Linked DNA regions of Homo sapiens: region 2 is reported to be linked to region 1. The links are microRNA targets in miRTarBase. Many come from high-throughput screens and were not tested one by one. Region 1 holds a microRNA gene; the other region holds the end of a gene's coding sequence.
What was found. The annotated mature microRNA hsa-miR-4454 reads GGAUCCGAGUCACGGCACCA and lies in region 1 at 1,269-1,288, opposite strand. An mRNA with a match to its seed (bases 2 to 7 or 8) in the 3' UTR can be bound and repressed. Matches are read on the target gene's strand: a 7mer-m8 pairs with bases 2 to 8, a 7mer-A1 pairs with bases 2 to 7 and ends in A, and an 8mer does both.

Region 1 (3,114 bases):
TTTCATTTTTATTTACTACAGTTTATCTTTGTTTTAACAGGGTGAAAGGAAAACAAACGGTAAAATATTTGGCTGAAACTGAAGTTCATTGTGAATTTAAGGATGAACTTCACACTTAAAGTATAAGGCCCATGTATAAAAATGTATAAATATGCTACCAGTTTCCATTTTTAAAGATTAATTGAAAAAGATTTACTAAAGATGTAACGATTGTGAGTTTTCCTAGAATCAAGCTGAATATAACCAAAATAATGCTGTGATTTCATAGTCATGCTTTTACACTACTCTCTGTTTTAGTAGATACTGTAGCCTATTCTGAGTGCTATTTTTTTCTTTTTGTCAGCCTGGAAGATTCCTACTTAGTCTTTAAGCTACAGCATAAGTGTCACTTCCTCTGTGTTGCCCTTTCCCTGTTCTCTCCTTTAGTATCTACTGTGCCCCATAATTATTTATACGAAGGAACCTATATCATTGAATGGAAATCATTCATTTTTTTCTCTGTCATCCCTGATAAACTATCAGATCCTTAAGAGTATAGTTCTGAGTTTAGTCATTCGTATGTCTCCAAAACTTAAAACAATGTCCTGATCATGGGTGCTCAATAAATACTTATAGAGTAAATAAAGAAAAATATAAGTCTTTTTCTTATGCTTCTGATTCATCAACTTGAACCAGAAATGATAAGGCAGTTAAAGGGAGCTTATCGTAAGGGATATCATCTCTTTAAAGGGCCAGGTTGGGGGGAAATTCCAATAACCAGAACGTCTCATAGATAGAGAGCTCATGAAATTTGAAAATTGATGCCAGTATCAAAATGTCAGGAATACTGATTGTCAGGCCTCTGAGCCCAAGCCAAGCCATCGCATCCCCTGTGACTTGCACATATACATCCAGATGGCCTGAAGTAACTGAAGATCCACAAAAGAAGTAAAAATAGCCTTAACTGATGACATTCCACCATTGTGATTTGTTCCTGCCCCACTCTAACTAATCAATGTACTTTGTAATCTCCCCCACCGTTAAGAAGGTTCTTTGTAATTCTCCCCACCCTTGAGAATGTACTTTGTGAGATCCACCCCTGCCCGCAAAACATTGCTCTTAACTTCATCGCCTATCCATCCCAAAACCTATAAGAACTAATAATAATCCACCACTCTTTGCTGACTCTCTTTTCGGACTCAGCCCACCTGCACCCAGGTGAAATAAACAGCTTTATTGTTCACACAAAGCCTGTTTGGTGGTCTCTTCACACGGACACGCATGAAATTTGGTGCCGTGACTCGGATCCGGGGACCTCCCTTGGGAGATCAATCCCCCGTCCTCCTGCTCTTTGCTCCATGAGAAAGATCCACCTACGACCTCAGGTCCTCAGACCGACCAGCCCAAGAAACATCTCACCAATTTCAAATCTGGTAAGCGGCCTCCTTTTACTCTCTTCTCCAACTTCCCTCACTATCCCTCAACCTCTTTCTCCTTTCAATCTTGGCGCTACACTTCAATCTCTCCCTTCTCTTAATTTCAATTCCTTTCATTTTTTGGTAGAGACAAAAGAGACACATTTTATCCGTGGACCCAAAACTCTGGCGTGGGTGATGGAATGGGAAGGCAGCCTTCCCTTGGTGTTTAATCATTGCAGGGATGCCTCTCTGATTATACACCCACGTTTCAAGGGTGTCAGACCACGCAGGGAGGCCTGCCTTGGTCCTTCACCCTTAGCGGCAAGTCCCGCTTTCCTGGGGCAGGGGCAAGTACCTCAACCCCTTCTCTCCTTGTCTCTACCCCTTCTCTGCTTTCCTGGGGCAGGGTCAAGTACCCCAACCCCTTCTCTCCTTGTCTCTACCCCTTCTCCTTCACCCTTAGCAGCAAGTCCCGCTTTCCTGGGGCAGGGGCAAGTACCCCTCAACCCCTTCTCCTTCACCCTTAGTGGCAAGTCCCGCTTTTCTAGGGGGCAAGAACCCCCAAACCCCTTCCCTCTGTGTCTCTACGCTCTCTTTTCTCTGGGTTTGCTTCCTTCACTATGGGCAACCTTCCACCCTCCATTCCTCCTTGTTCTCCCTTAGCCTGTGTGCTCAAGAATTTAAAACCTCTTCAACTTACACCTGACCTAAAACCTAAACGCCTTATTTTCTTCTGCAACACTGCTTGGCCCCAATACAAACTCGACAGTAGTTCCAAATAGCTGGAAAATGGCACTTTCAATTTTTCCATCCTACAAGATCTAAATAATTCTTGTCGTAAAAGGGGCAAATGGTCTGAGGTGCCTGACGTCCAGGCATTCTTTTACACATCAGTCCCTTCCTAGTCTCTGTGCCCAGTGCAACTCCTCCCAAATCTTCCTTCTTTCCCTCCCGCCTGTCCCCTCAGTCCCAACCCCAAGCGTCGCTGAGTCTTTCTAATCTTCCTTTTCTACAGACCCATCTGACCTCTCCCCTCCTCGCCAGCCCAAGCTAGGTCCCAATTCTTCCTCAGCCTCCACTCCTCCACCCTGTAATCTTTTTATCGCCTCCCCTCCTCACACCTGGTCTGGCTTACAGTTTCGTTCTGTGACTAGCCCTCCCCTACCTGCCCAGCAATTTATTCTTAAAAAGGTGGCTGGAGCTAAAGGCATAGTCAAGGTTAATGCTCCTTTTTCTTTATCCCAAATCAGATAGCGTTTAGGCTTTTTCATCAAATATAAAAACCCAGCCCAGTTCATGGCTCGTTCGGCAGCAACCCTGAGACGCTTTACAGCCCTAGACCCTAAAAGGTCAAAAGGCCATCTTATTCTCAATATACATTTTATTACCCAATCTGCTCCCGACATTAAATAAAACTCCAAAAATTAAATTCCGGCCCTCAAACCCCACAACAGGATTTAATTAACCTTGCCTACAAGGTGTACAATAATAGAAAAAAGTTGCAATTCCTTGCCTCCACTGTGAGACAAACCCCAGCCACATCTCCAGCACACAAGAACTTCCAAACGCCTGAACCACAGCGGCCAGGTGTTCCTCCAGAACCTCCTCCCCCAGGAGCTTGCTACAAGTGCCAGAAATCTGACCACCAGGCCAAGGAATGCCCGCAGCCCAGGATTCCTCCTAAGCCGTGTCCCATCTGTGCGGGACCCCACTGGAA
Region 2 (3,074 bases), not on the chromosome of region 1:
CAGAAAAATTAGCTGGGCATGGTGGTGGGTGCCTGTAATCCCAGCTACTCAGGAGGCTGAGGCAGGAGAATCGCTTGAACCTGAGAGGCGGAGTCTGCAGTGAGCCAAGATCACACCACTGCAACCCAGTCTGGGTGACAGAGTAAGACTCCATCTCAAATTTAAAAAAAAGGAAAAGTAACCACTGTTGACAAGAATGTAGAGAAACAGGAACCCTTGTCTGTTGCTGGTGAGAATGTAAAATGGTACAGCTGCTGTGGAAAAGTGGCAGGTCCTCAAAAATAAACAGAATTACCACAGGATCCAGTTAATCCACTTCTCAGTACGTACCCAAAACAACTGAAAGCAGGGACTCAAACAGATACTCGTATACCAGTGTTCACAGCAATAGCCAAATGTTCATTCATCAGTAGTCAAAAGGTGACGACAACTCAAATGTCCATCAACAGATGGACAAACAAAATGTGGCACACACAGAGAATACACACTGCACCCGTAAATATATTTAACCATAAAAAAGAAATAGCACTGACATATGCTACAACACGGATGCACCTTGACAACACTACACCAAGTCAAAGAAGCCAGATACAGGCCAGCCGCACTGGCTCACGCCTATAATCCCAGCACTGTGGGAGGCCGAGGTGGGTGATCACTTGAGGTCAGAGATTCCAGGTCAGCCTGGACAACATGGTGAAACCCCATCTCTACTAAAAATACAAAAATTAGCCAGGCTTGGCGTCAGGCACCTATAATCCCAGCTACTTGGGAGGCTGAGGCAGAATCATTTGAGCTGGTGAGGCGGAAGTTGCAGTGAGTGGACATCGCGCCACTGCTCTCTGGCCTGGGAAACAGAGCGAGACTTCAACTCAAAAAAAAAAAAAAAAAAGAGCCAGATACAAAGGGTCACATATTGTATGATTCCATTTATATGAAATATCCAGAACAGGTGAATCCAGAGGGACAGAAAGCAGGTTAGTGGTTGCCAAGGGCTGGAAAAAGAAGGAAATTATTGCTCAATGGGTATATTAGTTCTGTTTGGGATAATGAAAATGTTCTGGAAATAGATGGTGGTGACGGTTGTACAACATTTTTTGTTTTGTTTGTTTTTGAGATAGTCTGGCTGTCTCCCAGGCTGGAGTGCATTGGTGCAATCTCGGCTCACTGCAACCTCTGCCTCCCGGGTTCAAGCTTCTCAAGTAGCTGGGAATACAAGTGCCCACCACCATGCCCAGCTAATTTTTGTATTTTCAGTAGAGACAGGGTTTTGCCATGTTGGCCAGGCTGGTCTTGAACTCCTGACTTCAAGTGATCCACACGCCTCAGCCTCCCAAAGTGCTGGGATTACAGGCATGAGACAGTGTGCCCAGCCTGTACAACATTGTTAATATACTTAATGTCCCTGAATTGCACACTTAAAAATGATTAAAAGGATAAATTTGTTAGGTGTATCTTGGTATGGTTAAGAAAAATGGAAGGCTACACAATAAAAAAAAATATTTTTTTTTTGAGACGGAGTCTCACTCTGTCGCCCAGGCTGGAGTGCAGTGGCGTGATCTCGGCTCACTGCAAACTCCGCCTCCCAGGTTCACACCATTGTCCTGCCTCAGCCTCCCGAGTAGCTGGGACTACAGGCACCTGCCACCACGCCCAGCTAATTTTTTTGTATTTTTTAGTGGAGACACGGTTTCACCCTGTTAGCGAGGATGGCCTCGATCTCCTGACCTCGTGATCCGCCACCTTGACCTCCCAACGTGCTGGGATTACAGGTGTGAGCCACCGCCCCCAGCGATAAAACATTCTTATTGACTTTCGAGTGGCAAAATAATAAAGATCATGCCTTCCTTCCTCTTTACTGTGTTACAAATTGTATAATGAACATATATTATTAATTATGTGGGGCAATGTATATAACTGGCTTAAGTTTATAAAATAACGTACCAGCATCCGGTGCATTTGGCTTTATTACACTGCAGGGCCATCCAAAGCAAGAGCCTCTAGACCTCTGGGTGGTGAACAAATCTCAACTGGGGTTTCGTGCCTACCTGGACGACATCTGCTCGTCAATGTGTAGTTAACATCCTGACAGACCCTTCTGCCGCTGGATATGTGAGGGGCACAGCACAGGGCTCTGGAAGTCCCTGCTGACTGCTCGAAGCCTTTCTCCCTGCTAAAACCTCTGACCAAATGCTTAATAATATCTGCTGTAGGCTGTTGAGTCTGCCACACGTTTGACATTTATTGTTTATTCCCACACCCATCCCATGAAACAAGCAGGACTTTCCATTTTACAGATGTGAAAACCAAGATTCAAAGAGACTCAATAACCTGCTCCAGGACAAATGACAGAACTGAGACTTCTGACTCCAAATCTTACGCTCCCCCGCCACACCTCTTTGCCTTTCTCTTTCACACCAATGGACTCTATGGGTGACCTTGGCATAGGTTCTTCTAAGAACTGGCTCTTAACAAAAACTTCTGGCCATTATCTGACTGAATGTCACAAACAAGTGCTGTAAGAACTTGCTTAGAGCCTTTTTCCTAAACCTGTACACCAGCTCTTGCCTTGTGAATTTATTCACCACAAAACACATGTTCCCAGGGGCCCAGGCAAAGTCTCCAAGTACCCAGTCCCCTTTCTTCAGCCTTGCCCACACCCTCAGCCTTCCTGTTAATCCAGGCGACCCAGGGTTACCCAGAGGTCCAGGTCCCAGTTGTTCACTTGAGCATCTGATGTACCCCAAACACCTGTGTGAAACGCTCTCTGTCCAGGATGCGTCCATAGCGCAGGGTGACGTAGAAGGTCTGTTTCCCACTGTACCGCTGGATACGCACAAACATCTCCTGAGGCCGGTCCTTGGTTTCTGTCAGGGGAATCACATCTGCCATGGGACAGTATGTGTCCTGCCGCCAGCCCCAGAAGTTCAGATGGGCCACCCGCAGCATGGTGCCAGACTCATTCAGATACAGGATACCAACCAGTCTCCGTAAGAAATAGCTCATCCAGCACAGCATGGTCAGGGCAAAGCCCGATATCCCACTCATGAGGCACACGGTGTTGAGAGTGAGGAGGC

Region 2: the mRNA of TMEM186 is a reported target of hsa-miR-4454. The part of its 3' UTR that is shown has no 7-base or 8-base seed match.

The regions. Positions count from the first base shown.
Region 1 is chr4:163,092,339-163,095,452 of GRCh38, forward strand. It overlaps MIR4454 (microRNA 4454), which reads right to left and starts at 1,290; the gene lies at 1,236-1,290.
Region 2 is chr16:8,793,234-8,796,307 of GRCh38, forward strand. TMEM186 (transmembrane protein 186) reads right to left here. Exons shown (of 2, transcript NM_015421.4): 2 at 1,947-3,074. The coding sequence ends at 2,719. Among named protein-coding and RNA genes, the nearest start is that of TMEM186, 2.9 kb to the right of the region's middle.